Linked DNA regions of Homo sapiens. The protein of the gene in region 1 purifies or fractionates together with the protein of each later gene. This does not show direct contact. Each region holds a gene or a part of one and is shown on either strand. Other genes may lie near its edges.

What was found.
Region 2: the proteins of SRP54 (region 1) and SRP9 purify together in Homo sapiens (co-immunoprecipitation; 5 studies listed by BioGRID and IntAct, with this or other methods). This does not show direct contact.
Region 3: the proteins of SRP54 (region 1) and DERL1 purify together in Homo sapiens (affinity purification with western blotting; 2 studies listed by BioGRID). This does not show direct contact.

Annotation. Positions count from the first base shown.
Region 1 is NC_000014.9:35,013,291-35,024,071, forward strand, and holds part of SRP54 (signal recognition particle subunit SRP54), read left to right. Parts: intron 1-55; coding exon 56-204; intron 205-511; coding exon 512-612; intron 613-1,453; coding exon 1,454-1,540; intron 1,541-5,401; coding exon 5,402-5,475; intron 5,476-5,675; coding exon 5,676-5,784; intron 5,785-9,619; coding exon 9,620-9,790; intron 9,791-10,781. UniProt on the Homo sapiens protein: Component of the signal recognition particle (SRP) complex, a ribonucleoprotein complex that mediates the cotranslational targeting of secretory and membrane proteins to the endoplasmic reticulum (ER).
Region 2 is NC_000001.11:225,772,466-225,783,406, forward strand, and holds the start of SRP9 (signal recognition particle 9 kDa protein), read left to right. Parts: upstream 1-5,360; 5' UTR 5,361-5,475; coding exon 5,476-5,547; intron 5,548-10,834; coding exon 10,835-10,903; intron 10,904-10,941. UniProt on the Homo sapiens protein: Component of the signal recognition particle (SRP) complex, a ribonucleoprotein complex that mediates the cotranslational targeting of secretory and membrane proteins to the endoplasmic reticulum (ER).
Region 3 is NC_000008.11:123,015,729-123,026,509, reverse strand, and holds part of DERL1 (derlin-1), read left to right. Parts: intron 1-737; exon of another isoform or gene 738-787; intron 788-1,459; coding exon 1,460-1,524; intron 1,525-2,770; coding exon 2,771-2,797; intron 2,798-3,730; coding exon 3,731-3,826; intron 3,827-5,010; coding exon 5,011-5,063; intron 5,064-7,204; coding exon 7,205-7,315; intron 7,316-10,781. UniProt on the Homo sapiens protein: Functional component of endoplasmic reticulum-associated degradation (ERAD) for misfolded lumenal proteins. Forms homotetramers which encircle a large channel traversing the endoplasmic reticulum (ER) membrane.

The DNA.
Region 1 (10,781 bases):
GCTTAGGATCAATAAAAATCTTTTCTAAAGTATCTTTTCTATTTAAACTTTCTAGCAACCTGATAACATTGTTTATGTGATGGATGCCTCCATTGGGCAGGCTTGTGAAGCCCAGGCTAAGGCTTTTAAAGATAAAGTAGATGTAGCCTCAGTAATAGTGACAAAACTTGATGGCCATGCAAAAGGAGGTGGTGCACTCAGTGCGTAAGTATCATTGATACTGTTGTCCTCTGTCTTGGGATTATATGGGGAAGGATATGTGTTTATAGCTTTCATATTGATCATTTAAAATATGTTTCAATAGTGAGCCTAATATGGTTTATAAAGAAAGTTTAAATAGAAACAATTTTGGAGCCTGTCTGATATAGGTCTATTATAACTTGTGAAATGAAACTTGAGTTTTGTACCTTTGTCTAATTAGCTTTGGAGGCGGATTCACTTCGAATTTCAGATCTGCTGGAAATTTGTGGGGTTCTTTTGAGGTTATTTTATATTTTCTTTTTTTTTCCAGAGTCGCTGCCACAAAAAGTCCGATTATTTTCATTGGTACAGGGGAACATATAGATGACTTTGAACCTTTCAAAACACAGCCTTTTATTAGCAAACTTCTTGGTATGTACAGTGGTGGGGATATAGAAAAATCTCCAAGAAATACGATGTATCTTTAGGACAAAATAGGATTTTAATTCTGTCCTCACTAATTTAAGCACATCATTTCTTTCTGTGACTTAGTTTCCTTACCTGTAAAATAGAGATAATGGTTATCTGCCCTCTGTGGTGAAAGTGGTAAAATGAGGTATCTAGTAGAAAGTTCTTTGGAAAAGTTTTAGAGCACAGTACAAAAACAAGTGGTTTTAATAATAGTGGATGTAAGGGCAGTAATACTTTGGCAATGTCTCAAGGTGGTATAGTTAGAGAGCATGGAATTTGGAGTTAAACCCTGGGCTGCAGTCCTTGCTTTGCCACTTGTTTGTTGCCACTTAACTTTTTTTTTTTTTTTTTTTGAGACGGAGTTTCGCTCTTGTCACCCAGGCTGGAGTGCAATGGCGGGATCTCAGTTCACTGCACCTTCAGCCTCCCGGGTTCAAGCGATTTTCCTGCCTTAGCCTCCCAGGTAGCTGGGATTACAGGCGTGCACCACCAGGTCCAGCTAATTTTTTTTTATTTTTAGTAGAGACGGGGTTTCACCATGTTGGCCAGGCTAGTCTCAAACTCCTGACCTCAGGTGATCCACCCACCTTGGCCTCCCAAAGTGCTGGGATTACAGGCATGAGCCACCGCTCCTGGCCATGCCACTTAACTTTCTTAGCTTTGGTTTTCTCATTTGTGTAGTGTAGTAAGAATACCTAACCTATTATAACCTCACAAGGTTATTATGTATGTGAATGTGTTTTGTATAATGTGAAGCAGGGTATAGTATTAGTTGTTAATTTTTCTTTTTTGTATCTTATAGGTATGGGCGACATTGAAGGACTGATAGATAAAGTCAACGAGTTGAAGTTGGATGACAATGAAGCACTTATAGAGAAGTTGAAACATGGTATATGAGTGACAAAAAAGCACTTCATCTCAGATTTCTTCCATTGATTTTTTTTATAAAGTTACTATTAAGTTATTTGAAATGTAATATCTGTTAGAGTCAGATCTTCCACTGCTTATTATTTTAGATGATTTATATGCAAATCATTTAAAATCTCAGGTACCTGAGCAGTTACAGAATTCAGTGTTTTTATTTTCTTTATTGTAATAAAATTAAGATTAAAATAAGGCTTTCACTAGGTTCCTTGAAGTTTTTCTGTTTTTTAAGACAGAGTCTCACTCTGTTACCCAGGCTGGAGTGCAGTGGTGCAATCTTGGCTCACCGCAAACTCCACCTCCTGGGTTCAAGTGATTCTCCTGCCTCAGCCTCCTGAGTAGCTGGGATTACGGGCACGTACCACCAGGCCCGGCTAATTTTTGTATTTTTAGTAGAGATGGGTTTTGCCATGTTGGCCAGGCTGGTCTTGAACTGCTGACCTCAGGTGATCCACCCACCTCAGCCTCCCAAAGTGCTGAGATTACAGGTGTGAACCACTGTGCTTGGCCGGTTCCTTGAAGTTAAACAGGTTAAAAGTAAGTTAGAACACAAGGATGAAATTAAATATACCACATTTTCTTTACCCCACATGAAAGACCACTCCTGTAGAGAAGGATATTATTCTGATTAGGAGCTCAGGTTCTTAAATATAACATACCTGTTTTTGTATCTCTGATCTATTTTTTAGCTTTATAACTTTTTAAATTACTTAGCCTCAATTTTGTCATCTATAAAACGTACATAATACTAACTACTTCATATGGTTGTGAAGATTGCATTCGCTGATGCATGTACAATGTCTGGCACATCATAAACACTCAATGTATATTATTCTCAACCATTCCAGTTGTTCTAAAAATAATCTTTAATTACCGTAGCAACTATTCTGCCTCTTTGCTTCTTCTCACTCATCTTACCAGATAATTGTGCCTTTACTTTTCTCTTAAATGCTGGTGTTTCTCAGGGATCATTCGAAGTTATCTTTCTCAGGAGCTTCAGACTCATGTATCTGTGTTTACTAGACCATTCTTGGATGTTTCATAGACATCTCAAATTCAGCATATCCTTATTCCCATCCCAACCTCTCACCTCGTTGTCTTATCAATGAATATTAATATCATTTATATTGTTGCCAGAGTCAGAAACTTGGGTGTCATTATTATTTCTTCCTCACTCTGCCCACTCCTTTCTCCATCAGTTAACTAGTCCAAGTGTTTCCACCTCCTAAATATCTCCATTCCATCCCCTTCTCTGTAGCTGCCCTTCAACTATGCTAGTTCATCTCTTTCCTAGATCTTCTTATTGTAAGTCTTTCAACAGATCTTCCATCTTCCTGTACTCTTCCCCTTTGATGTATTTTTTCATACTACAGCCCAGAATAATCTTTCAAAACTGCAAATCTGATCCCATTACTGCTTTTCTTAAAATTCTTTAGTGGCTTTCTCTTGCCCTTTTAAAGTTTTTAACTGATTTTACTGTCTAGCTCACATCTTCCATGTTGTGTTTTAGCATTGTTGTTCTTAGTATTCTGTGTGCCAGCTATGCTGGACTTCTTTTAGTTTCTCAAATGTACATTCCTGTCTCTCACATCTGGGCTGTTGCCTTTGCCAGTCCCTCTATCTCTCTTCTTACCTCTGCCATCATCTCCTCTGGCCAAGATGGCTAACTGCTACTTGCACTTCAGATTTCTCCTTAAATGTCCTTCTTCAGGGACATTTCACCTGAACCCTAGACTGAGTTGGAACCTTCTGACAGATGTTTCTATCACTTCCTACAATTAATTTTTATATTATTCAGCACAATTATTTGATGTCTGTTTTTCCTGCTTGAAGGTGAAGGTAGAGGTCATAGCTGGGTTACTCATTTTTTATGTTCACAGTACCTAGCACAGTGTCTGGCACATAGTAGGCCTTCAGCAACTATTGAATGAATGAATTTATCCTTTGTTGCCTGTCTCTTTGCCCCTTTTTTTTCTTTTCTTTTTTTTTTTTTTTCTTCTTTTTTTGAGACAGAGTTTCACTCTTGTTGCCCAGGCTGGAGTGCATTGGCACAATCTCAGCTCAGTGCAACCTCCGCCTCCCAGTTTGAAGCAGTTCTCCTGCCTCAGCCTCCCCATTAGCTGGGACTACAGGCATGCACTGCCACGCCCGGCTAATTTTTGCATTTTTAGTAGAAATGGGGTTTCACCATGGTGGCCAGGCTGATCTCGAACTCCTGGCCTCAGGTGATCTGCCTGCCTCGGCCTCCCAAAGTGCTGAGATTACAGGCATGAGCCACCTTGCCTGGCCGCTCCTTCCTTTTTCTATCTTGGATAATCCTACCACTGTTTCTGCTACCACTATGAAGCTGGGTGTATATTCCTACTCTGTTTCCTTTCTGACTCCTGACTCTCCTTAAGTCTCTACATTTTTGTTTCTATTTCTAATATTCTACTCATTCTGAGATCTCCAAGGGTCTCCTAATTTCCACATGTAGTGACCTTTCTTGTTTTCCTTGGTTCCTAATATTTAAGTGTTTTCTGCCTTTTCTGTTTTCAGACTCTAAGTTCTATGTCTGTGGATTTCTTATATTATTCTAGCTTTAATTATCACTTCTGTATAAATGGCCAAATATGTATTTCAACCTTAATCCTCTCTTCCACTGTTTAATTCTGCGTTTCTAGTTGACTGCTATAACATTTCTTTTAAGATACTGTACTGCCACTTCACATTCAGAATGCCTGAACCAAATACCTTTTCTCTTTTTATCTTTAGGACATAAATAGAAAATACTTTCTCTTTTGGCTTGTTCCATCCCTGTTTTTAAACCTTAGGTTAGTATACATACAATGAAATGCTCAAATCCTAAGGATACCTTTCTTTTTTTGACAAATGCACAGTAACCCACACCCAATCAAGAAACAGAACATTTCCATTACTCTAAAAGGTTTGCTTGTGCCCTTTCCCGGTAATACTTCATATTATAGAAGTCCTGGGCTGTGCATGGTGGCTCACACTGTAATCCTAGTGCTTTAGGAGGCCAAGGTGGGAGGATCATTTGAGGTCAGGAGTTTGAGACCAGCCTGGGCAATGTAGTGAGACCCATATCTCTTAGAAAAATCCAGTGGCATGCATCCATAGTCATAACTACTCTGGAGACTGAGGCAGGCGGTCACTTGAGCTCAAGAGTTTGAGGCTACCAGTGTGTGATGACTGTACCACTTCAATCCAGTCTCAGTGATAGAGCACAACCCTCTTAAAAAAATAAAGAAATTCTGAGTATATCGTTTTTCTTCCAATCTGTTTTCTTTGACTAAGCATATTTTGATATTAATTCATGTAGTTGTACTTATCTATAGTTTGTTCTTTTTATTGCTGAATAATATTTTTTCCACAGTGTATCCATTTTCCTGTTCATAGATACCTAAGCTATTTAAGAAACTCCAAACAATCTTCTAAAGTGTCTTGCTATTCTATATTCTCACCAATATATGGGAGTTCTTTGTGGTCCACATCCACTTTAACTTTTGATATTGTCAACCTTTAAAATTTTACTCATCCTAGTAGGTGTAGTTTATGTGCCTTGTTTTCAGGTTTCTTGTGTGTTTGTATATGTGTCTTCTCAGATAGAATGTAAGCTTCTCTATGATAGGACCTGTCTTTGTCTATGTATTCTCCCCAGCATTCATCCTGTCATCTTGCACATGGTAACTGCTTGGTGAATATTTATTGATGTATATTTTATAAATATGCTTCAAGATGAATTCATGATTAAGGAATAAATTAGTTTTGTTGAATGGAAATGTACATACTTTAATATATCCGAATTATTTACATTGTATTTCAGGTCAGTTTACGTTGCGAGACATGTATGAGCAATTTCAAAATATCATGAAAATGGGCCCCTTCAGTCAGATCTTGGTTAGTTATCCTTAAAACTTTATACCTTCTTTTGTTTTCATTAAATTTTCTAAAATAGATACACTTGCTTTAATTATTTTTACATTCGGGTAAAAATATATCTAAGACTTAGTGTCAATATTAAACCTAATAGTTAAATGTGGACATTTTGAACCATTAATCTTAAGCTACTATTGACTTTATGTTTAAATCTGTTGTAGGGGATGATCCCTGGTTTTGGGACAGATTTTATGAGCAAAGGAAATGAACAGGAGTCAATGGCAAGGCTAAAGAAATTAATGACAATAATGGATAGTATGAATGATCAAGGTAAGATGGCAGATTATTTTCCTCAGGCAAAAATGTTCTGAGTATCAGTAAGATGAGAGTTTCACTGTATTCTTGTGGACAAGATGGGGAGAAATTTAGCCTGAAAGATTATTTTTAGGTAGATTTGTAATAGCTTGAAAGCTCTTACTCAAAGGGTTATGATTATTGGATTGCCTTCATCGTTGAGAGAAATGTCTAGTATAATACTTCTCCAAATGAGTTACAAGGAAAGAACACTAGTTCTTCATGATGTTCATAGAGTTAACTTAAAAGGAGAACTCTGAGTCAAATGTGGTGGAATGCTAGTTTTTAAAGAGTTAAATTTGGCTGGGTGAGGTGGCTCACACCTGTAATCCTAGCACTTTGGCAGGCCAAGGTGGGAAGATTACTTGAGGCCAGGAGTTTAAGACCAACCTGGCCAAACGTAGCAAGACCCTGCCTCTATGAAAAAAAATTATTTACTGAAAGTCTCTTCACGGAGCTTTAATATTGCTAACATACATTGGGAAACTAAGAAATGGATAGCTTAAGCAATGCTTAGAAAATTCTTTCTGTCTGAAACATAAGAATTCAGTTTTCTCAGTATACTGCTCTGTTCCCCTGACCCTATAAAGGCATGCCTCAGAGATACTGTGGGTTTGGTTCTAGACCACTGCAGTAAAGGAAATATCATGCAATAAAGTCAGTCATACAGATTGTTTTGGTTTTCCAGTGTATATAAAAGTTATGTTTACAAATACATATACTGTAGTCTATTAAGTGTGCAAGAGCATTATATCTAAAAAACAATGTATATACCTTAATTTAAAAATAGTTGATTGTTGGCCGGGCGCAGTGGCTCACGACGCCTGTAATCCCAGCACTTTGGGAGGCTGAGGCGGGCGGATCACCTGAGGTCAGGAGTTTGACACCAGCCTGGCTAACATGGTAAAACCCCGTTTCTACTAAAAATACAAAAAAATTAGCCGGGCGTGGTGGCACACACCTGTAATCCCAGCTACTTGGGAGGCTGAGGCAGGAGAATCGCTTGAACCCGGGAGGCGGAGGTTGCAGTGAGCCGAGATTGTGTCATTGCACTCCAGCCTGGGCGACAGAGTGAGACTCTGTCTCAAAAGAAAAAAATAAAAAAATATAGTTTATTGCTAAAAATGCTAATGATCATCTAAGCCTTCAGTGCATTATAATCTTTTTGCTGGTGGAGGGCCTTAGCTTGATGTTGATGACTGCTAACTGATTACAGTGATGGTTGCCAAAGGTCAAGGTGGCTGTGACAATTTCTTAAAACACAAGAATGAAATTTGCCCCATTGATTGACTCTTCTTTTCACAAAAGATTTCTCTGTAGTATTCGATGCTGTTCGATAGCATTTTACCCACAGTAGAACGTCTTCCAAAATTGGAGTCAGTTCTGTCAAACCCTGCTGCTGCTGCTTTATCAACTAAGTTTATGTAATATTCTAACAATTTGAACAATTTTTCATATCTGTGCTTTATCTACTATCTGATTTATTGTTATTTTTTTGTAGTCTCTTTTTCCTGAGCTCCAGGTTTTCATAGTAGCCCAAATAAGACTGTCTTTTTCTTTTAAGGTTGTTTTTTTTCCTCACTGTCTTTAACACTGCAAAAATGTTTGCATGTAGAATTCATAATTGCAGCATATCTAAAGTATCCATTCTGTGCCAGGCACTGTCCTGAGCACTTTAAATATATTAATTCATTTTATCATCATAACAACTCCTATGGCATATTCAGTTATTATCTGCCTTTTTCAAATTAGGAAACTGGGATACAGGGAAGTTGAGTAATTTGCCCAGTATAGAACCTTTCCTGACTTCCTTCCTTCTTTGAATTAACGCCCCTTCCTCTATTTGCTTAACTCTGTCGTATTACTTGCCACGATGTGCTGCTATTAGTTTATCTTCTTTCATTTGATTTGAGCTGTTGGAAGGAATATAATATATATGTTTCATAAATCTTTTATAAGGAAGATGTGGCTTAAAAGCTGCATTTATGAAATGGATTTGGAGGTTTTGATCGTGACTTTATTTTGAGATATTGTATCTTTGTTAGTATTGCATTGATAATTAGACTTCACCTGGATTTCAGTTCACTTCTGGACAATATACTTAGAGGGTATGTATAGACAAATTAAAAGATGTAGGAAATCAGGATGATAAATGGGGTTCTAAACCATGTTAGAAGAGTCAGAGGTGGATATTTGTCATCCAGCGAAAATTCACAGGAGACATGGTAGCTCTTATGCATTTGAAAGCTGGCCAGGTGCGGTGGCTCTCAACTGTAATCCCAGCATTTTGGGAGGCTGAGGTCGGTGGATCACTTGAGGTCAGGAGTTCGAGACCAGCCTGGGCAACATGGTGAAACCCTGTCTTTACTAAAAGTACAAAAAAAATTAGCTGGCTGTGGTGGCGTGTGCCTATAGTTCCAGCTACTCAGGAGCCTGAGGTGGGAGAATCGCTTGAACCCTGGAGGTGGTGGTTGCAGTGAGCGAAGCTTGCACCACTGCACTCCAGCCTGAGGGACAGAGCAACACTCTGTCTCAAAAAAAAAAAAGATTTTGAAAGCCTTATTTTTTATGCGTAGCAAGGAGACATATACATGAATAGGAATGGAAGTGCCACGTAAATGGATTTCAATTTAATATGTGTAAAGAAAAGATTTTTCCCTAAGTATAACAGAATGGCATAGACAGCCTTACATTAGATAGCAGGTCATCTCTCCTGGGGATATTAAGACCAAGGCTAGATAACCATTTATTTGGGGGATATTGCAGAGGGAATGCAGACATAATGGACATTTTGACTAAAGTCCATCCCATTCCTGAGATTGCATGCAACTGAAGCTAGAAGAAATGCACCTGATATTCTAAGAGTGATCAAACAACTGCGGGAATTAATTCACTATATGCTACTGAGAGAATTAAAATACTAGTAGTAGTAATTACTTGATTATAGGAAATAATTTTTCTGTTGATTATGGATAGAACGTACCTCTTTCTGCTTGCTTATATAGTCTACATTATGAATTTATGATTAATATTTAGGGTAGAGCTAAAGTGAGCATTTGTGTTCATTTTTTAAATATACCATATACCTCTGATGTTTGGAGGGCCTGGAGAGGGTAGACATATGAAGTATGGAAATGTTGGACATGGGGTCTCGAAACATTCTATTAATAGTTTACTTAAACTGTAGGGAAAGTACATGTTTGTTTCATTGTTTTTATAGCTTATGAATACTATAAATGTTCTTTTGAATATATTCCGTATTTTCTTTTTTTTTTTGAGATGGAGTCTCGCTCTGTCGCCCAGGCTGGAGTGCAATGGCGCAATCTTGGCTCACTGCAACCTCTGCCTCCCAGGTTCAAGCGATTCTTCTGCCTCAGCCTCCCGAGTAGCTGGGACTACAGGCACATGCCACCATGCCCAGCTAATTTTTGTATTATTAGTAAAGACAGGGTTTCACCATATTGGCCAGGCTGGTGTCGAACTCCTGACCTCATGAGCTGCCTGCCTCGGCCTCACAAAGTGTTGTGATTACAGGCATGAGCCACCACGCCTGGCCTCCATGTTTAATTTTTAAAACTCAAAAGCAAACATAGCGAATGTTAACATTTGTTAAATCTGGGTGGTAGTTTGACTATGTATTATGTCTGTTTTTCTGTATGTAAGATATTTTGTAATATAAAAAGAAAAATGAGATAGTTATCACTTTAAAAACATCTGCTAAGCTCTTTGAAGTTATATATTGCCCATTTGCACATAACTGCTTTGATGGTGAATGATAATTGTGTGTGAGAGTAACTGACCTTGTCTACAGAACTAGACAGTACGGATGGTGCCAAAGTTTTTAGTAAACAACCAGGAAGAATCCAAAGAGTAGCAAGAGGATCGGGTGTATCAACAAGAGATGTTCAAGAACTTTTGACACAATATACCAAGTTTGCACAGATGGTAAAAAAGATGGGAGGTATCAAAGGACTTTTCAAAGGTAAGAAAAATAAGCTTGTTATTAGTTAACAGACGGAAAAGAAAGGAAGTTGAGAAAAAAGAGTGCTGCCAGTATTGGAAAATTCACAGCTGAATTTCATGTTATTTTCAAGTACTTCCAGGATTTATGTGACCTGTGATTTATCTGTTTTCATATTCAAGGTAATATTAATATTTAAAAAAAAACTTTACATCTGTGTAGTGTGGGTAAATGAAAAAAAATTAATAAAGCAATGATTTTCTTTTTGTGAACACATTATATTAAATTTAGATAATATAAGGAAAAAAAAAACACATTACCTTTACTCCCCAGAGAATCCAGTGGATCCTACTGCAAATAACAGTTGCTATAACTAAGTTTTCTTCTGATATATCATAACTGTTTTTCCATGTTGTCAAATATTCTTCAAAACATAATTCTTGGCCAGGCACGATGGCTCATGCCTGTCATCCTAGCACTTTGGGAGGCTGAGGCGGGCGGATCACTTGAGGTCAGGAGTTCAAGACCAGCCTGGCCAGCATGGTGAAACCCTGCCTCTACTTAAAATACAAAAAATATCCGGGTGTCGTGGGGTGTACCTGTTATCCCAGCTACTCGGGAGGCTGAGGCAGGAGAATCACTTGAACCCAGGAGGCGGAGCTTGCAGTGAGCCGAGATTGTACCACTGTACTCCAGCCTGGGCAGCAGAGTGAGACTCCGGTCCCCAAACACACACACACACACACACACACACACACACACACTTCTTCTGAGTAATACTGTTTAAGTTATGCATGTATCTTTGTCTAATGTAGTGCCACTTTTTTGGACAGTAAGGCTGATTCATTCACTTCTATATCAGATCAGTTTTTGTGCAGTTCCATGAGACCAGGGATTTTTGCCTGTTTTGATCAGAAACATAGTAGAAGCTAAAAAAATTTTGTAGTAATATAATTTCCATTATATTTCTTTATTTATATTATTTTGAGACAGAGTCTCTCTCTGTCACCCA
Region 2 (10,941 bases), on another chromosome or scaffold:
TGTCTGCACACCACTGCCCTCCACTGGACACTGAATCAAAGCTGCCCCAGACCCACGTTGGTGTCAGGACTCCCTCAGGTTTCCTTCCCTCCCTATCTGGGACACAACCTCCTGGGCAAACCGGTTTCTTGGTTGGCTTCTCTTACCAGGTTTGTTTTACCCTGTCTGCCTTGCATTGAATCCATGAAACTTGGGAAGTACAAGAGGAACAATGTCTTCTTTCACTCCTGGCATATAGCGGGGTCAATAAATATTTAATAAGTGAAAATAAACATGACACACATTCCTGGCAAGCCAGCAGCACTTCGGACTAGTACTATGATTATTAATATAAGAATCCATTTAAGGACCTATATATGTTCTTAGTCTAAAGCAGCTACAGTGCTGATTGTTTTTAGAAGACAACTGAGGAAAACAAAGAGGCACCAAAACTTAAGCAAAAGAAAGAGTTCAAAAACAGTCACTCCTCTTTATCTTAACAACCACCAAACTTTCCTCCTCTTGCATGCCTCCGCAGACCTTTGGGAAGATACAGAACAGGATGTAAAGGGAGGGGAAGTGAACACAGGTACTGCCAAGCCTCAGGGATTAGACTGCTCCCTCCCTCGCTTTGACGCGCTCTCCAGCTTCAGCTATTGGCATTTGTGAACTTGCCTTATTATCTCTGCCCCTGACCTCACTAGCTTGTAAATTGCCTTGCCCAGCACAATGACTGGCCTATAAAAGGTCTGCCATACACAGTTAACTGAATTCTGGTGGTTGAATATGCATGTTACTAATAATTTGCCAACAGTAATAATAAAATAGGTTGTTTTTTTTTAAAGAGACATCACATTTACAGCTTAGAAATTTTGATTTGGTGAGAAATTGTTTTCACCTTCCACAATTCAACTCTGGGGTTAGCTGTGGACCTGGTAGGCAGTGGGATATATGAATCTGAAGCTCAGGGAAGAAGCCTGGACGAAGTAGGAATCCAGGAGCCTCATAGCATGGAGGTTGGGGTTAAAACTCAAAGGGTATTGTCCAGGAAGAACTAGAGAAGGTGAAAACCAGAGGCTGGTGTCTTGGGATCCCAATCCTGAAGAACCAGGGGAGGCAGAGGAGGTCAGGACAGAGCCAGAGCAGAAGTCAGAGAGGAGCGAGAAAGAATGGGGCCAAAAAAGCCAGGGGTCTGGGAAGTTTTCGGGATTAGAGGGTGGCCAGTGGCCTCAAATACAGCTGAATAATCTAGTCACAAAGGATTGAGAGATGTCTGCTGGAGTGGGTAATATAATAGTCAGCTGGTGAACCCATGAAAGCAACTTTGGGGTGAGAGGGTAGATACAGTGGAAATGGGATGGGAAATGGGATCAGAAATGGGATCAGGAATGGGAGGCAAAGACATGAACACAATCGCGGGAGGTGGTGAACATAAGGAAAAGTGCAAGGGCTTTTGGTTTTGACCCTGCACCCAGGCTCTGCTTTACCGATCTAGCTTCTGTATTTCTACTAGTTACACTTTCTAAAAATCAAAATTAATCCTGTCACTTCCGGTTATGATTAACATCCACTGGCTTTTGCCATTTGCTGGACAATCCGGAGCAAAGTCTGGGGCCAATCTGTTTAGTGTCACTTATTTTTCAGGTTTGGTTTCTTCATCACCTGTAAAGGAGAGTGGCACAGGACTATAATCCCTTGTCCGAAATCCTTGAGGCCACCCGTATTTCAGAATTCACAGCCTTTTGGATCCTAGAAAGGTGATACAGTGCACATGTGGTATATTACATAATACCACCAGCAGGGTCTGTGCCCCACCCTGGAACCAAACACACCAAGTGAAACAAATAAAGACTAAGCAACCTTACTTGAGGTCAGGTCATTTTCTACTAATGGAGTTACCAAGATACTTTTGTTTTCCAGAGCTTTTCAGATTTTTGGAATTGTAATAAGGCTCACTGACCACCCTGGCAGAGTTGTTTGAAAGCTCAAATAAGATATGTGTGTGAAAATGAAGCAGAAAGGATAACCACAAAGGGTACAGAGGCCCTGATCTTCTTGACTGGGAATGAAAGGAATTTTTCCTTTTCTGACATTGTGCATGTGTGAGCAATTTATAAAGGACACTCTCTGATAGCCTTTCAGAAGCCACAGCAGGAAAGGAATAACCTAGTTTAAAGGATGCATCCAGCAGCCATAAAAAAAAAAAAAGAATGAAATCATGTCCTTTGTAGCAACATGGATAGAGCTGAAGGCCATTATCCTGTCAACGAACGTAGAAACAGAAAACCAGATACAGCATGCTCTCACTTATAAGTGGGAGCTAAACAATGGGCACTCATGTGGCTTGGCTCTGTGTCCCCACCCAAATCTCATGTTGAACTCTAATTCCCAGTGTTGGGGGAGGGACCTGGTGGGAGGTGATTGGATCATGGGGGTGGATTTCCCCCTTGCTGTTCTTGTGATAGTGAGTGAGTTCTCACAAGATCTAGTTGTTTAAAATTGTGTAGCACTTCCCCCTTCTCTCTCTCTCTCTCCTGCTGCCACGTGAAGAAGTGCTGGCTTCCAAGCACTTGATTTGGCCCTTCTGCCAGGATTGTTAAGTTTCCTGAGGCCTCCCCAGTCATGCCTCCTGTACAGCCTGCAGAACTGTGAGTTCAATTAAACCTCTTTTCTTCATAAATTACCCAGTCTCAGGTAGTTCTTTATAACAGTATGAGAATGGACGAATACGGGTACACATCAACATAAAGATGGAAATAATGGACACTGGTGACTCCAAAAGGGGGAGGGTGGGAAGATGGAAAGGGTTAAAAAGGTACCAATTGGGTACAATGCTCACTATTTGGGTGATGGGTACACTAGAAACCTAATGCCCACCAGTATGCAATATACCCATGTAACAAACATGCACATGTACCCCCGAACCTAAAATTAAATTTTTAAAAAAAGAATGCATCCTAGTGTGACTGGGGACATTTGCATAATCAAGGGCAATTCCCATAACTTCTTCCTTATCTTGATTTCTCTGCCTCTGTAGGGGCTGAGGCTGGGCTAAGCTTGGAGATGCTGGAACTCACAGTGATGGGGACCCTCACAATGGAGATCTGTTCTTTACTGTCATTCTCTCCATAACTGTGAGCTCTATGAGGCAGGGACTGGGCCTGTCTTGTTCACTGCTGGGTCTCTAATGCCTAGCCCAGCTCCTGGTGTTTGTCCAGGGTGGACACTTGTTTTACTTTTTGCTGAATTGAATTGAAACTGATCTCTTATGTTCCTTGTGACAGAAGGCAAAGTTGGCATTGTCTTAACTTCCATTGTTTTCATCTTCAGGGAAAAACCCCTACACCTGGGGGTCATTCTGCCCAACTCTGCCCTCTCTGCCTCTGCTCATTGCTCTTTATAGCTTCCCTCAACACACACACACACACACACACACACACACACGTGTCTCATTAAATGAGGATTTGGGTCCCTGGCTCATAGCCTTCTCCTTCATCTTATTCCTTTTCTTACTCATAGAAGACTTTGACTTTGTGTGGACAACCCAACTATAAATCCAGCCTCACCAGGGACTATTGCTACTCTAAAATGTTAAACCCCAATATCCAATCTGACTAAAACTTATTTCCTGCTATATTGAATTCAGATTTCCTTTAATCCTGGTTCCTTAACTTCTCTCTTTTGACTCAATTAATTACCAGCTATCTAGCATGGATCCCATAATTTATCATTTCAATCATTCTCTTGCCAGTACCACCTACAACATTCTTGACCCTTTGTTCTTCTTCCTCATGTACCCTATAAATCCCTAATATCTGTCTTTTCCAGTCCAAAATCCAAGCTTCTGGGTGTTGCTGGAGACAGACCCTAATTGGGGCTATTCCCAGATATGATCTCCAGTTTCAGCTTTTTACTCTACTTGACATATTGCTTTTGAGTTTCTTTTTTTGTTGTTGTTGTTGTTGTTGTTTTAGAGACAGAGTCTTGCTCTGTTGCCCAGGCTGGAGTGCAGTGATATGCGATCTTGGCTCACTACATCCTCCATCTCCTGGGTTCAAGAGATTCTCCTACCTCAGCCTCCCGAGTAGAGTAGCTGGGATTACAGGCACCCACGACCAAGCCCAACTAATTTTTTTATTTTTAGTAGAGATGGGGTTTCACGATGTTGACCAGGGTGGTCTTGAACTCCTGACTTCAAGTGATCTGCCCACCTCAGCCTCCCAGAGTGCTGGGATTGCAGGTGTGCACCACCGCTTCCCACCTGTTTTTTTCTAATAGGCTTCCTTATTCATTTCTCACAATGGCTTTTCCAAACCTTCTCCTCAAGGATCCAAACCCATCCTTGCTTCCTCAAAGATCCAAAACCACCCTTCCTATTTACGAAGGTGGTCTCCTGTCTTAGGTGACAAGAAAATGTACCTTCTTGCCCTCGTATCTACATGCTCACCTATACCCTCACCCGACTTTTCCCTCCTCCTCACCCCATCAAAGGCAATAATGCACCTGTTTTTATTCATCTGGGCCTTTGGTCTTCCCCTTCATATTTCCCGAGACCTCGCTTTCTTCTTTCTCTTGTATTTTTTATTTTTCTATCTCTTATGTGTCCTTCTCTAAAAGTTATAAACATGCACAAAATCTTTCCATCTCAAAATATAATACCCTTTACCTGGTGTCCCCTGCAGGCCATCTTCTTTATTTATTTACTTTTGCGCCAGCGTCTTCCTCTGAAGCCCAGGCTGGGTGCGTAGCGCGATCATGGCTCACTGCAGCCTCGGACTCCCGGGCTCAAGCGATCCTCCTGCTTGGAGGATCAGATTTTTTATCCTTGCAGAAGTGATAATATGGCTTCTTCCTCATCTCCTAAACACCAGTCATCTGACATACACTGCAGATCTAAAATGGGCCTACGTGTTCTGCCCTTCCTTGCCTACCTGTTGAGCTTGCACCGCTTCTGTGAGTCTCCCCCCACCCACAAGAGATCCTTCTTCCTTCGCGCTCCACTAACCCGACATAAATGTTTATCATATAAAGTTTTCCGTTGCACTCTTGTGTTTATGTCTCCTGGCTTCTTCACCAAGCTGTGTGACAGCTGGGCCCTGTCGCCTCCTTCCTCGTATATGCAGCGACTATCGCAGAGCCGCTTAATCTTTGTTGAAGGCAGCTGCGGTTCAGCCCTGAGGGCCACGGGACGGACGCCACTCATTCAGCCCTACCGGGGGCGCTGTGGCAGCCGGCATTGGTTGCCGTGCCCTCCGCTTGTCTCGCTCAGCTCTCGAGCCACACGCCCTGGGCTCCGCCCACTCCCTGACAACATCCCTCCTGCCCATTGGGCGAGCATGGACGGGGCTGTCCAATGGAGCGAGGCGTTGGTGCGAGGAGGCGCCGCCATCTTGGGGCTGCTGGGACTCGCGTCGGTTGGCGACTCCCGGACGTAGGTAGTTTGTTGGGCCGGGTTCTGAGGCCTTGCTTCTCTTTACTTTTCCACTCTAGGCCACGATGCCGCAGTACCAGACCTGGGAGGAGTTCAGCCGCGCTGCCGAGAAGCTTTACCTCGCTGACCCTATGAAGGTAAATCGCTGGCGGGGCCGCTGCTTTGGGCCCCAGCCCAGGATGTCTTCCCGCCATCCACTCGGCCCCTGGAGCTTCCCCAGCGCTCCCAGGAGGTGCTGGGAATGAACACAAATGGACCCTGCCAAGTTAATGTTCTGCTCTCTCGTCCCCTTCTTCCCTGATCTAGCGGCCCAGTGAGGCCCTGAAGCTGGCAACAGCCAGGTTCATCTCAGCCCTAAACATTTCTGCAATCGATCTTCCCGCCCCAGTCCCTCAGCTTCCTTTATGGCTTCGGTTGTTTTACGAGTCCCTGAAGCCAGGGCTCCTCCCCCTGCAGCTTCCTGTCCTTTGTCTTGGTTCACTTTTCCTGTACCGCCTAGGCGGTAAGGGTACCTCATGTATATAAAACTGATGATGTTTTTTCTACTACCGCTCAGACATTCTTGAAAGATTCCAATTTGGAAGCATCTGTACCCCCCAGAATATTGGTTCTTAGTATTTTGGGAGTCACAGGCTTTGGGACCATAAGAATAATATTTGCACCTTTCCTCAGAAAAATGGTATAAGTAAATGTATAAGTAAATGTTTGCAAACAATTTTAAGGGATTCATGGACCTCTGAAATACATTCTTAGCCCCCACAAAAATTATAATGGAGGTGGATGTCAGAGGTTAGCTCATTATTAAAAAGCAAAGGAGTCCAAGTGATGGGAGTTTAGCATTCGGGTCTTACTTTTCGTCTCTTGAGGTTTTGGTTATTTTATTGTCATGTCTAAGAATTATTTGAAGCATCTTCGTGTTAATTAAAAGTTCTGCTTCTTTTTAGAACTCAGCATATTGAAGGGATTTTATACTGAAAACCTCAGACCTGGTTATGTATGATGCTTCTTTTGTTTTGTGTTTGTTGTAACTCAGTTATCTCTTTTATGCTGCATTCATTTCCCACTCTCGTGTTACTGACCCCAAGTTAAATTAGGTTCTGTGGGAGACACAAAGGTGAATGAGATTCCGTTCAACCCTTAAGGAGCTGGTATTATTGGAGGGTATTATAGATCCAGTGTATTGTGACTGTATCCCTCGGAGAAGAAAGAAAATTAAAAGCAGATAAAATCTCGGAAAACCGGGGCTCAGGATCTTTTTTTTTTTTTTTCAATAGTTTTATTTTTTTTGAGACGAAATCTCGCACTGTCGCCCGGACTGGAGTGCAATGGCTCAATCTCAGCTCGCTGCAACCTCCACTTCCTGGGTTCAAACGGTTCTCCTGCCTCAGCTTCCCGAGTAGCTAGGTTTACAGGCGCCTGCCACCACACCTGGCTAATTTTTTGTATTTTTAATAGAGGCGGGGTTTCACCATCTTGGCCAGGCTGGTCTGGAACTCCTGACCTCGTGATCCACCCGCGTTGGCCTCCCAAAGTGTTGGGATTACAGGTGTGAGCCACTGCGCCCAGCCCAGGGCTCAGGATTTACTGTGTGAAACTATTGATGATCATTAAGTAATATGAATTATGTTTTAAGTGTATGCAGTGAGCTGGTAACCTGTAACTCCAATGCCACATACAGTTTATAGTGCATATAAGTTTAAAGTGTGCAGCAAGAAATGTTGATAATTATGATTAAAAATAGTATTAGACCCACAGAAAGACCTAGCTAAGTAACAAGCTGTAAAACATACTTCTATTTTTTACAATAAAATGATACAATAATAAATGATGGAAATTGTATTTTTTAAATTGAGTAATTTGTTTATAACACTGGTGACTTCTGGTTGCTTCATTTGGTTAGCTTCCCTTGTTGGCAGGGTCATTTGTTTCTTCATTCAGACAATGCTACTCTGAGACCACACAGGACTTTTATCCAGAAGTACCCACAGTATAAACTAAAAATACTTGAGACAACAGTAAAGAATATATAAATTCACATCAAGAGTAACTGTACTGTAAGAATGTGATGGCAGTGGTAGGGAAAATGAAAATAATTAGAGCATCACTGTGAGCAAAGCATGTCTAGAATAGACAAGAAAGAGAATATTTCACCTCTTACCCAGTCAGAAAATTGCAGTTGGCACAGGCTGGAGTGCAGTGGCACAAATCACAGTTCGCTGCACCATTGAACTGGGCTCGAGTGATCCTCCCACCTCAGCCTCCTGAGTAGCTGAGACTACAGACATGCCACCATGCCTGCCTAATTTTTTTTTTTTTTTTTTTTTTTTTTAAAGACGGGGCTCTTGCTTTGTTGCCCAGGTTGGTCTTAAATCCTTGCCTCAGGTGATTCTCCTGCCTCAGCTTCCCAAGTAGCTGGGATTACAGACACAAGCCATGGCGCCTGGCTTGACTGATATGTTGAGAGGGGAGAGGATGAGTGTAGAGGAAGAGCTTAACAGTTTTTTTTGTTTGTTTGTTTTCCAAGATGGAGTTTTGTTCTTGTTGCCCAGGCTGGAGGGCAGTGGCGCCATCTTGGCTCACTGCAACCTCCGCCTCTACGTGACAGGCATTTTACATATGTTTATATGTTACAGGCATTTAATATATATTTATGTGTGTTTACATAGATTTATACATAATATATGAACAATTACAGCAACCCATCAAAGTATATAAATGAATGATTTTATATCTGTTAAGTGATATACCTAGTTTCTTGAGAGATTAAGATGAAATTTGGACCCAGATCTTTGAACCCCAAGTCCATTCTCTTTCTGCTAGGGCTAAAGAACAAATTTTGTCAGGTCTCTGGAATCTGTTTTCCAAAATTCTCTGTCTTCTCTCCGCAACACATTTAACCTGTTGATTATACCCAGTATCTTTTTACCACTCTGTCTTGTATTGCTGTAATTGAAGATGGCATTACCACTGGATTATGTAATAACCTCTTTGTTGGTCTGTCAGCCTTTTTAGTTCCTTAACACTCTTGCCACAACTGTCTAAAAAACAAAAGTTGAATTCTTCATCTCCTGCTTAAAAACTGGCTCTTTGATAACTGGATATAGTCCCAACTCCCAGTCACAGTCTGACCCATCTCCAGTCTTTCTGGCTTTGTCTCACCATTTTCATGATCTTCAGCTCTAGTCTCATGAAGCTACCGGATTGTATCCTTGTTCAGAATGATTTTTAGCCTTTCTTCTGCCTTCTTCTATAAGGTTAAAACAAAAAAAGCATTTCAAAGCCACCTCCTTTTTTAGACTTTCCTTTTTCCCAGTCTAAGTTACTTGTTTTCTCTCTTTAGCATTTTATCTGTATATCCCTTTATAGGACTTAATTCATTCTGTCCTTGTGTTTTGGTTATTTTTGGTAAAGAACCTTGATTTTTCTTTCTTTATGGCATCTGACATGGTGACTTGGCACCCTCTAAATTACCAAATGGACCCTTTTATAAACACGATTGGCCTTTTTTCTTTTCTTTTTCTTTTTTTTTTTTTTTTTTTTTGAGACAGAGTTTTGCTTTTGTTGTCCAGGCTGGAGTGCAGTGGTGCAATCTCAGCTCACTGCAACCTCCGCCTCCCGAGTTCAAGCGATTCTCCTGCCTCAGCCTCCCGAGTAGCTGGGATTACAGACACCCACCACCATGCCCAGCTAATTTTTGTATTTTTAGTAGAGACGGGGTTTCACCATGTTGGCCAGACTGGTCTCGAACTCCTGACCTCGTGAGTGAACTCCTGCCCTCCCAAAGTGCTGGGATTATAGGCATGAGCCACTGCACCCAGCCATGATTGGCCTTTTAACTCTCATTTCTCCTAAATGAAACCAGTGAGTGTTCCTTTAACTGAGAGTTAAAACTTCACATAGTTGTCATGCTTAGTATATTTTTAAGTGTTTCGTTTCTAGAGAACTGAATTTTTAAAATGTGTAAAACTGAATTTACTAGATAAATAAATAGAATCAGGTATTCTAAAGATAATTAACCTAGTTACTACTATTTATACCTGCTTAAATGCTTGATGAGTTCCCTTTCCTCCTTCACTCAGACAAATCGCATATAGTGATGTAACTTTTTTTTTTCAGTCTCAGGAATGCAAAGACCGTAATGGGGAAAGCTGTAGGTTGCAGTTCCATTAGCCCTTTTTATTTAGTTTCCAGAATTGTCTTGAGGCCTCTGGTGCTAGATTGTAACCATTTTAAAATTATGTTTCTGTTCTGGCTTGTAGATAAGTAGCAGTTTTTATTTTATTTTATTTTATTTATTTATTTTTTTTGAAATGGAGTCTCGCTCTGTCCCCAGGCTGGAGTGCAATGGTGCGATCTCGGCTCACTGCAAGCTCCACCTCCCTGGTTCACACCATTCTCTTGCCTCAGCCTCCCGATTAGCTGGGACTGCAGGCACTCATCACCACGCCCGGCTAATTTTTTGTATTTTTTAGTAGAGACGGGGTTTCACCGTGTTAGCCAGGATGGTCTCAATCTCCTGACTTTATGATCCACCCGCCTTGGCCTCCCAAAGTGCTGAGATTACAGGCGTGAGCCACCGCGCCTGGCCGATACTTAGCAGTTTTTAAAACAGCTAGCTAAACAAGAGTTACTGATACTGGTTAGGGAAAAACTGCGATACACTGTGCTTGAATCCATCACTGAAAAAAAATAATGTTCGTGGAAGTGTTCTTGGGAGATGTCTTATAGGAATATGCTAATATCTAAATGCCTTGGCAATCTGTAGAATATTGAACATAAAGTATTGTGTAACATGGAACTTCAGTATAGGAGTTATTCTGGTTTTTGGAAAAGTTGTTGGTGGAGACTTCAAGGCAGAATTCTGCTTTTATGTAATAATGCGTTATGTTCTACCTTCGTGATAAAGACCTGATTTTGCTGAATATTTTAGTCTGAATCTGCTTGCTAAGATTTGTGGAAAAATGGAAAGTGTGAGTTGCACTGACCTGCAGCACTGTTTGCTAATGAATGGATTTGGACTTTTTAACTAGCCATTTCTGCTAAATGTTTTCCTCCCTTTCCTGTCATTCCTCTGTGGCTAGGTGTGTTGGTGTATATTCTTATTGGCAAGAAATGCCACCTTATAAGTCTCACAGACATTCCCTGAATGTGGATGTGTTTTGAGAATGTTCAGTACATCTCTTCAAACTGGCTGCAAATAAAATATCCAACTTTTTAAGTCTTAAATAAATGGTAGCAAAGGAATGAACTAAAATAGCTGATTTTTTTTTTAACTTCATTTCGGTTTAGTTTATAGTAAAAATGCCTTTAGATGTTTGGGGGTATTTATTCTAAAAGGATCCTTTTCAGCCTACCTGAAGACTAAATTATTTATAAGAAATGTCATTTGTCTTCACTGTTTCTAAATATGTATTTTTGTTTCAGGCACGTGTGGTTCTCAAATATAGGCATTCTGATGGGAACTTGTGTGTTAAAGTAACAGATGATTTAGTTGTAAGTATACATTTTTATTTGTTACATACTTTCAGATT
Region 3 (10,781 bases), on another chromosome or scaffold:
AATTGTTAGTTATATAGCAGAGTTGGCTTATTTGAGGTTTCTGATTTGAACTGGAAGACTGTAATTTGAAACCAGTTAATTTGTAAATTCTCAGTTGCAAGCATGTCAGATAATATAGTGCTGTAATTTATATGATTACAATATTTTAAGTACTCAGTCTAAAGACTCCTTAGGAATCAGACAGCCAAAGCCACATCAAAAGAAGCACAGCTATTATTAAAATCGGGAAATTGTGTTAGAATTTCAGCTGTGATTCATCATTGTGATCCTCTAGCATTAGGCCTGCTTAACACTGTGGCTGAAGTGTGCTTTGAGGTATCAAGGGAGAAATAAAGGAGAGTAGAAGACACTTTTGCTGGAAACCTATTTTCTTTTAATTATATCTTTTTGCCTTACTGACACTTGTTGGGTTTCTTTTTTTAAATTGACTAGCTGTATCATGTAACTGTGAGGGGGTGTGGAACGGGGAGGGAAAGTAACTTTCAAGCTAGAGTGATCTTACAGTCATTTCTGTTTCTTTTTTTTTTTTTCTTCTGTTAAAGTCTTCTAACTGAAGGCATTAGGAATTATGCTTACACGGGAGGCCGTTGTTGATTATTCTGCCCAATAAGGCATATGGCGCAGTGACAGGAGCACTGTGCTAGTAATTTGATGTCACTCTGGTTCTAACAAGCTCTGTGACTTTGGTCATGTGACTTTAACTCTGCATCTGTAAGAAGCAGGTCGTAGGTCTTTCCATTCTCCCTTCCAGATGCAGTATGAGGACTGAGTCAGAGGCTATGGAAAGGTTTGGCTGACGCTTTATTCCCTCCTTCCCCCACATTGTTTTCCCTTGGTAGAATGTACGTCTCTGGAAGACAGAGACTTTCTTTTTCAGTATCTAAGGCCAGTGTGGTACAGGTGGTTGTGTGTGTGTATGTGTGTTTCTAATAATAATGGTAAGTACCTCCCAGCATAGCCATGCTGGAGGAGACACAATGGAGACAAAACAGGCATGGTTCCTCCTCTGACAGAACTTAACGGTCTAGTGGAGGAGGACAGGGATCAAGCATGTAATCCAGAATGCGGCCATCAGGTCATGGCGAGAGCCAAGAAGGAAAGGCTGACAGGCTGGGAGGGAGCTTGGGGGGCCTCACTGGTCTTTGGGATACAGGGCTCAGAAGCTGTGGAATTGACTGTACTTTCTCTGGGTCTGTTTTAGCCTGTGGTAGTCAGAGCATGTCACTTACTGGAATTCAGTTAGGAGAGCATAGATTAACCTTACTCAGGTAACTTTGATTCAGGGCTTTATTGGGGACGTTGTTTAGATATTTTTAAAAATTCACTTTTTTAGAGAGGAGTGGTTTTTAAAATGTTCTCATTTTGGCTTTTTCTGTAACTTTTTGAAGTGTTTCTCTATGTAGATGTTACTTTGTTGTGAAATTCTGAACCATGACATTTGGCTTGTTTTTGTTTCCAGGAGCTTTTGATGGGAGGCCAGCAGACTATTTATTCATGCTCCTCTTTAACTGGATTTGCATCGTGGTATCCTTCAGTCTGTGATTTTGGGCCAGAAATAAACCAGTTTTTTTCCAGGTTTGGGGAAATAGACCATATTCTGTAAACGTTTCAAATTACAATATTTGCATCTTGGTTGACTACCGTTAATAAGAATAATTATAGTTTTTTAAAAAAAACTGTAGTAAATCATATAGCCCTTGAGTGATGCATTCTCTTACCATTTGTGGGATTTTTTTCCACCTTTGGTTGAGTAGTTTTATGACTGTTCCCTCTTCTTGTTCCCAGTTCTCTGTGTTCTCATGTGTGACAGCTTGTTGACTGAGGCACAAAGAGAGTCCGTGCCATGAGACAGCTTTTGAAATCTGTGGTCCTTATCAGAAAATTAATTTACAACCAGCATCCTTTTCTGACTTCATTGCTGTCCTTCTCTTGGGGTCCTACATAGTAATTCAGTCCCTCTGTGAAGTACCCAGCTCTGGGAAGGGACACAGTACGTTTCTCTGCTTTGTATCAATAGCAGTTGTCAGCAGCCCTCCAACTGCAGGACTCTTACAGATGGTGAGAGCAGCAGCAGCTCTCGATGTCTCAGGTCCTGTGCAAAATTGGTGAGCTCAAAATTGCCTTTGGGCTCAGCTGCCATTTAAACTTGGCTGAGGGCCAGAAAATGTGGCACTGTGGATGCCCTTTCCCCCCTCCTTTGAGGGAAGGAAAAAATATTTTGGACTTTAACCATGCTATAGAGTCCTGAGAATGTAAGTAGAATGATTATTTCCTTCAAAGGCTACAGGCATCTTCATCCTTTATTTGAAGGAGAGATGTTAAAATGCAATAGCAGAGAAAAAGGATGCCAGATGACCAGACTAAGTCATATGCGGAAGCTGTTGATTTCTACTATGTCCTTGTCATGGTATCGTCTAATGGAATATGCATAATGAAGATTAGATACCTTTGTGTTGTAGAATGTTTTAAGCAATCTGAACTATAGAAAAGTATTTTCCTTCAGAACACTGGAATTAACTTAAAAATTTTTTTAATTAAAAAAATATGTATATAAATTAGAGATGGGGTCTTGCTATGTTGCCCAGGCTGGTCTGGAGCTCCTGGCCTCAAGCAGTCCTCCCATCTTGGCCTTCCAAAGTACAGAGATTACAAGCATGAGCCAAATTACACCTGGCCAAGTGAACTTTTAAATGGGAGGAAAATAACCACATCAGTCTTGACTAGGTACAGAATGCTTTTTTATGTCTGATCTTTAACTTTACAAACCAAGATTACTGGCTTAGCAATGGATATGCAGGTAAGTGTCCATTTAAACTATCTATTTGCCCTTTTATTTGTTTCAAATATACTATTAGTGGCCTTTGTCAGAAGTTGAAATTGCATTAACTATGGGGTTAATTATGTGGTATTTTGAAATTATGGAATTACAGCTGTTTTATTTATTTATTTATTTATGAGATGGAGTCTTGCTGTGTTGCTCAGGCTGGAGTGCAGTGGCTTGATCTTGGCTCACTGCAACCTCCGCCTCCCGGGTTCAAGTGATTTTCCTGCCTCAGCTTCCCGTGTAGCTGGGATTATAGATGCACGCCACCACACCCGGCTAATTTTTGTATTTTTAGTAGAGATGGGGTTTCACCATGTCACCAGGCTGGTCTTGAACTCCTGACCTCATGATCCGCCTGCCTCGGCCTCCCAAAGTGCTGGGATTACAGGCATGAGCCACCGTGCCTGGCCTATAGCTGTTTTATTTTGAGGATCTTAAGTCAGCTAAATCTTTGAAGATCTTACATGAGCTATCTAAATCATTGCTTTCCTTGCTCATTTCTGGCCTCTTTTTGGTGTTTGAACATTGACAATAATGGTTGTCTAGTATTTTCTAGGCATGTGACAACAGTGGTTGTCTAGTATTTTCTAGGCATGTATATGGATGTTTTTTAAAAATTGAGATTATATGGTAATGCTTTGTTGCTTACTTTTTGTAAATAACAGAGCTTGACTCTTACATTTCTGAATCCATCTAAAATAATATAGTTTTGTTGTATTTTATTATAGGATTTTGTAATATTTATTGTATGATAAATAATAGGATCAATTTATAATTCTGATCAGTTGAGTTTCCCTTTACCCAGGTGAGGATTGTTGTGAAGAGGAGGGGTAAAAAGCATAGTAGATGTACACCTTTTTTAAGTGCCTCTGGAGCCTGGTTTTTACATGTCGACTTCTTTTGCAGTTGCTGATGATTCCTCTGATCATGTCAGTACTTTATGTCTGGGCCCAGCTGAACAGAGACATGATTGTATCATTTTGGTTTGGAACACGATTTAAGGTACTTTGCCTTGGTTGGAAAAGTGTCCTTTTCATTTGTCTGCAGAAATCCCTCTTCAGTCCAGAGATGTACTTTCTGACTCATCCAGAAGGGGTCACTGCAGAGCAGTGTACCATAGGCAAGCCCCTTTCTGCCCTCCTCAATCCCAGCTCTATTTAATTAGCCAGCCTGGAGTCCGTTGCTGGCCTTTGTTTCTTCACTCCCTCTGTACCTCGGGCCCCTCAAGGTTATGTCCCTGAGTGATCTTATGTGTCTGTGTTAGAGAGAAGGAGAGATAACTCATGTGAAACCCTGCTTTAAAAATCTGTTCTTATCCCTCCCTCGTTCCCTGTTATTTGCTTTATACTGTAGCTGAAACAGATTGTTTTTGCCCCCAAACACTTCTCTTTGTACATTCTTTCACAATTTTCCACCTGTAACATCTTGATTCTCTTCTTTGTATAAATCCTACCCATTCTTAATTTGAGTTGGAACTGAACATATTTCCTGAATCTCCTGCCTAGAATTAGTCTTACGTTTGGGCTTTTTCAATACTTTGTGTTTCTCTTTAGTACTTAGCACATGTAGCTGTAAAGTTATTTGAGTATAACCCTCTCTTTCCTAGTTTGTGAAGTTTCTTGCAACTCCTTTAGCTCTTGGTATGATGTCTTGGATTTGGTAAGGGGCTCAAATGTTGAGTTCATCTGGAGAGCTTTCTTATTTGGGAGAGTATTAGTTTAAGATATCAATGCATAATGAGATAAAAATTCAGAGGAATTTTGCAAGATATGTAAAAGAAGAACCTAAAAAGATGGGGTATGTTTATTTTATTTGTAGCAATTTGTTGGCTGGAATCTTAGTGTGATTCTCTCATGGGCCTTGCTTTTAGTAGCATCTGTAGGACACTCATCTGCTTTTTGAAGCTGTCTGTTTATAGCAGTTCAGCAGGGCCTGTATTGCATCAGACCTGTGGGCAAAGTACTGTGTCCTTCCAGTTACAAATACACAATTAAGTCTAGTTTTAGATAGGAAGGTTTAAGTATAGTGGGAATAATGCTAGATTGATCCTAGAAATTTTGCAGTGACCTTCCAGAGGATTTATATAAAGCCCTTGTCAGTGTATCCTTACCCACTTTAGTCCCCGTAGTAGCTGTGTCCTCGTCAGGTGTGGCTACTCACATTTGCATATATTCATTCCATCCTAGGCCTGCTATTTACCCTGGGTTATCCTTGGATTCAACTATATCATCGGAGGCTCGTAAGTGATATTAGATTTATTTAATTGGAAACTAATCCTTGGAAAATTTCCATTAGTTTTTATCTTTCTCTAACCTTTATACAACTTTAAAGAATCTCAACATTGACGCATTAGAACCCTATATTTATGGAATAATTTCACTTCGATTGAATTGATTAGATTGCAGGGCTTTAAGCATATTTAACCTTGAATGGTTGTGATTTTGTTAACTTATTGTTACACACAGTATGTTCCTATGTGTATAGTACAGGAATAAATATGTATTTCTGGATTCACTATTCTGATTGGGCAAACAGAGACCTAATTTTTGTCTGAGTTGGCTCCTCTAAGAGCTATGTATAAAATTACTATGTCTTATATTCTTAAGGCATTTCCAGAATGCCTTGGAAACTGCCTATCGGTCATAGAAATCCAGATTCTTAGATAGGATATAATTTTGCAAGTGGTTTGATGATACAGAACTTTTTTTTTTTTTTTTTTGAGACGAAGTTTCACTTTTGTTGCCCAGGCTGGAGTGCAATGGTGCGATCTTGGCTCATTGTAACCTCTGCCTCATGGGTTCAAGCAATTCTCCTACCTCAGCCTCCCGAGTAGCTGGGATTACAGGCGCCCGCCTCCATGCCCGGCTATTTTTTTTTTTTTTTTTTTTTGGGATTTTTAGTAGAGATGGGGTTTTGCCATGTTTGCCAGGCTGGTCTCAAACTCCTGACCTCAAATGATCTGCCTGCCTTGGCCTCCTAAAGTGCTGGGATTTCAGGCATGAGCCACCATGCCTGGATGATAATACAGAACTTTTGGCCAACCAGGGTCAAATATCTAGTCTATTGGTCAGGAATTAGAGCTAGACATAGGAATAGCTTTAATTTATCCAGTCAGAATTTTAAAGGGAGGATACCAAGATGCAACTTCTCTAAGAACTCCCATTTCTTCATTTTTTCTGTTTATTTATTTACTTATTTATTTTTTCAAGATGGGGTCTGGCTCTGTCACCGAGGTTGGAGTGCAGTGGCGTGATCTTGGCTCACTGCAACCTCTGCTTCCCAGGTTCAAGCAATTCTCATGCCTCAGCTTCCCGAGTAGATGGGATTACAGGTGTGCACCACCACACCCAGCTAATTTTTGTATTTTTTGTAGAGATGAGGTTTCGCTGTGTTGCCCAGGCTGGTCTCAAACTTCTGACCTCAAATGATCCGCTCACCTTGGCCTCCCAAAGTGCTGGGATTGCAGGCATGAGCCACTGCACCCAGCCAGAACTCCCATTTCTTATACTACAAACTACTTTTAATATTTCAATCCATTTTTATATTGCTGGTTCTTCATGTGTCTGACATATTTGCTCTGTGTGATCCTAACTTCTTCTGCATATTGCTGGGGAGAAGTGAATGGATGGAGCAGACTGTTTAGAGCAAAGCATGTTCTGAACTTGGCAAAGCTGCTCTTCCACCCAGGAAGGTGAAGTCTGAAGTAGTTGCAGGTGTTGATTTGCCCCTGACGGGAATCATGTTGCAGGTGAAGACAAAGAGGATTTGTAATAGTAACAGTAGATCTATACACTCTTGAGGTGACCTGTATGTAAGCCAAGGGAAAACTGAAGAAGGTCAGCGTTGATTTCAGGGTGCAAGTCGGCTTTCCTAAGTGATCTCTGTGGTGTCTTACACTCAAGGATACAAGAGGCAAGGGAGAAGTGCTTAATGGCTCCAGGAAAGGGGGAACAGGCATTTATTGTTCCTCTTTTCCTTACTCCCACGCTTCTCTCTTGGTAGCCTTCATGTTTGCCCACATTTTATAAATACAATATTCATGACTGAAAGCATTCAGAAGCATGCTTTGCAACTTCCCCAACTCTTGAGGCAGGAAGTAGCAAAAACAATATTTTGAGGATGGGCTGGTGCTTGAAAGAGAGGTCAGAGGGGCTGCTGGCCTTGAAGAGTGGCAGGCCTCATTGGTTCAGCAGGACTGATTTCCCGTCTCCCTCAGAATGCATTTGCCACTCAGACTACAAAAGTGCTCATTGTCAGCTCTCACAGACTCCCAGGGACTAAATGGGCTGCCTTGAAGGCTCTCTTCCTTATGCTATTAGTTAAAACTTGGTGCATCTCTATTGCTTGAATGTCTTTAAACTCATTTGGCTCTCTTTGCAGGGTAATCAATGAGCTTATTGGAAATCTGGTTGGACATCTTTATTTTTTCCTAATGTTCAGATACCCAATGGACTTGGGAGGAAGAAATTTTCTATCCACACCTCAGTTTTTGTAAGTGTTTTTGTCCTGTCTCATCTAACATTTTACTGCCTGTGTTCTTAGTGCATCCTAATGAGAGCTCCATGAGGAGTATGATTTACCCCTATGCCCCATCTGCTGGAGAAACCTGAGGCAACAAGTGACTTACCCTAGTCACACAGTCACAGGAAGTTAGGGATTAAAGCTTAGGCTCAGTTGCCTTCCTGTTACTCTTTTAGCCAGGGACCACTGACAACTAGATTCCAACATTACAGGAGGCATCTCAGCTCTCTGAGCCTGCTGAGGGACCTGATGCAACTCCAGAGTGCGAAACAGTAGGCTGGTGAATGGGCAGAGTCACAGGTTAGTGGGGTGTCTTTTCTTGGCCCATCAGTTTTTACCCATGATTTTGCCCAAGGAAGGGTAAGTTAGCGTGTTGGTCAGCAATTTTAAACATTTTTATATTAAATACTATGGAGTAGACATTTTACAGGACTGTTCAGAGTTAAAATGAGAGACTTGAGGTTTGTATAGGCCCAACCCCCTGGGAGTTTGTGCTCTTTATCTGCTTTTAGGGTTTACTGAAGTGGGCTGGTAAGGGCAACAGCTTTGATTTTTGAGACAAACTTGGATTTGAATCCCAGTCCCCTCAGATAGCAGTTTTTATACTGGGAAAGTTACTTAATCAAACCTCCAAGCTTCAGTTTGCAAGCCTGTAAATTGTGGGAGAAGCCCCTGTCTCACAGGACTGCATGAGGTAAGATACACTGTTGGGAAGCACAGTAGCGGGTTCTCGGTAAGTAAAGCTAGCTGCCATATTCCTAAAGGTGGGGGTAGGAGAGCAGGATTTTGACGATCTGAGAGGAGACGCGCACACACCCAGAAGCATGTAATAGTCGTGTGACCGTTCTGTCAGTGAGGCAAAAGGCTGTCGAAGAACGGGCCAGTTAAATCACCATCTGGGTGTCACAGCCTGCCTGACAATCATGCCTAATCTCATATCAGGGATATGCAGTAATAGCTTGCATTTGAAAGCTTTAAAAAAACAAACAAACCAAACCCTTCCACATCTTGCTAATTTTAATGTTTTGCAGTTCTGTCATTCCTCTAAGGGATCAGTGAGGGCAGTAAAACTTGAGCAGGCCTCCTCTTTCTCCCCTTCCTTTTATAGGGTAGGGGTATGTTTTTCAAAGACTTTTCAAATTGTGAACTGTAATATACAGAGATATACCATATTGGTGGTTGTGGTGTGTGTGTTTTTCTTTAAGAGAATAAAAAGAAACTTGTTTCTCTTCTGAGCCTTGAATTGCCTTCAGGCTAAAAAAACAAATGACCAATCTGGTTTCTAATTATCAAAGGACATAATAACAGCAGGTTTGGCTTTCTGATCTAGGTTTATCAAGTAGGATGGCAGATGCATCAATTAAAAAAAGCTTGGTGCTTTTGGGGGGCAGCCAACAGTTACTTTACTTTAAATGGCCATATTCTAACTTAACGGCTTGTAGCTACTTCTCAGTTGTGGGCAACACAGGATACAAGATTCTAGTGGCAAAATCAGCGAGCCCTGGAGCCTGCCTTCCACTTGAACTTTCTCTGTTGGGGGAAGTCCTTCTGCTAAATTTTGCATAAAGATCAGATGACAAAATACAGCTCCTTGCAAAAGCAGTAACTGCTTTGAAATTACCATAAATTTTTGTTGATTATGTATAATTGGGTATCTTTTTATACTAATTATTTGCATTTAATTTCACTATCTACTTAAGCAGTGGAGATGGCTTCCATATTGTCTTAGAGTGAGTAGCAAAGCAAGACAGCCCTAGCATTTTCTCCAGCAAGTGTTCTATTTTATTATGTACTTTGGAGGAATATTATTGTACCAGAAGGCATGGATGTTGAGAAACCAGCACTTGGAAAATACATTTTGATTTAATGGTAAAGCTGTATTTGTTTAAAATGGAGGAGGTGAGTATAGGAAGGTATAACTGCTTTTCTAAATGGAATGCTGATACATTTGTATCACCATTTTCCATTCCATTTAGAGTAGTTATATCTTCTCTGTACACACTAAATTTTGTGTTTAAAAGGGGTTTTTGGCCAGGCGTGGTTGCTCACGTCGGTAATCCCAGCATTTTGGGAGGCCGACGGGTGGATCACGAGGTCAGGAGATCGAGACCATCCTGGCTAACATGGTGAAACCCTGGCTCCACTAAAAATACAAAAATTAGCTGGACATGGTAGCGGGCGCCTGTTGTCCCAGCTACTCGGGAGGCTGAGGCAGGAGAATTGCTTGAACCCGGGAGGTGGAGGTTGCAGTGAGCTGAGATCATGCTACTGCACTCCAGCCTGGTGACAGAGTGAGACTCCGTCTCAAAAAAAAACAAAAAAACAAAAACCCGAGTTGTTGTCTGTTTTGGGAAGAGGCATGAAGGTATCGAGTATGATGTAAACAGACTCCAGTCACTGACTGCTGTCCCTTCCCAGGCAGGATGCATGTAGTATAACAAGTAGTGCAGGGCGCAGGCTCTGGAACCAGGCTGACTAGGTTGGAATCCTGTCACTTTCGAAGCGCTTCACTCAGTGTTGGCTCAATTTTCTTGTTTATAAAACAGGAGTAATAGTAATGCCTACCTCATGGGGTTATTGTGAAGATCAGATGAATTTATAAGCAGGCAGCACCTAGTGTAAGGCAATAATCACTGAGTAAATTCACATAGTAACTGCTCTAGTATAAGGTCAAGTATAAAGCCTGTCCTCTTCAGGGTTTCTGCTGTGGACAAGTCACCTGTCATGACTTACTCTTGCTGCCAAGAAGGGTTTAAGCGGAGGTATCAGATCATGCTCTCTGCCTTCAAGCAAAATTTTAAACATTAGGATCTGCTAAGTGGAATAGGTTTAAACACATTCTCAGTTTACTAATAAAAGAGTCAAAGATGGGAAATAGTTGGAAAATACTATTGAGAGTGTAGGCTTGGGTTTAAGTTCTCTTAGCTGTTCTGTGAACTCTTAGTTTATTAATTTTAAGGTGGGAAATCATCTAACCGTCTGGGGCCCCAGCTCTCCCACCATCTGTGAGAAGGGAAGAATGTACCTGGAAGGCAGATTCTGAATAAATTTTAAAACATACCCATACTTCCAACATAGAAAGCCTTCTTCCCCTGTCTCCTTTGATGGGCTCAGCTGAGAGCCTTTTAGAAATGCTGTGCAAGGCTCAAACATGCAGGCTGTGGATTTGGCCTTTGAAAGTGAATGTATTTTGTATCCTTTGATCCAGTTTGAGCCATATTTAGATATACCAAGATGCTATCAGTCATTCTTTGGTTGCTGGGCTTGTGGGTGTAATATTTTTGTTTCCATACTGTTCTGCATGGATTACTTTTATAAGCAGAGAAAAAAACGTTCAGAGTGTGAATTTAGCTGAAATCTGAATACATTTAAGAAACATGAAAAACGAATGCCGTCTGTGGTCAGGTCATGGGGCTGAGTACAGAAAAGACAAAGT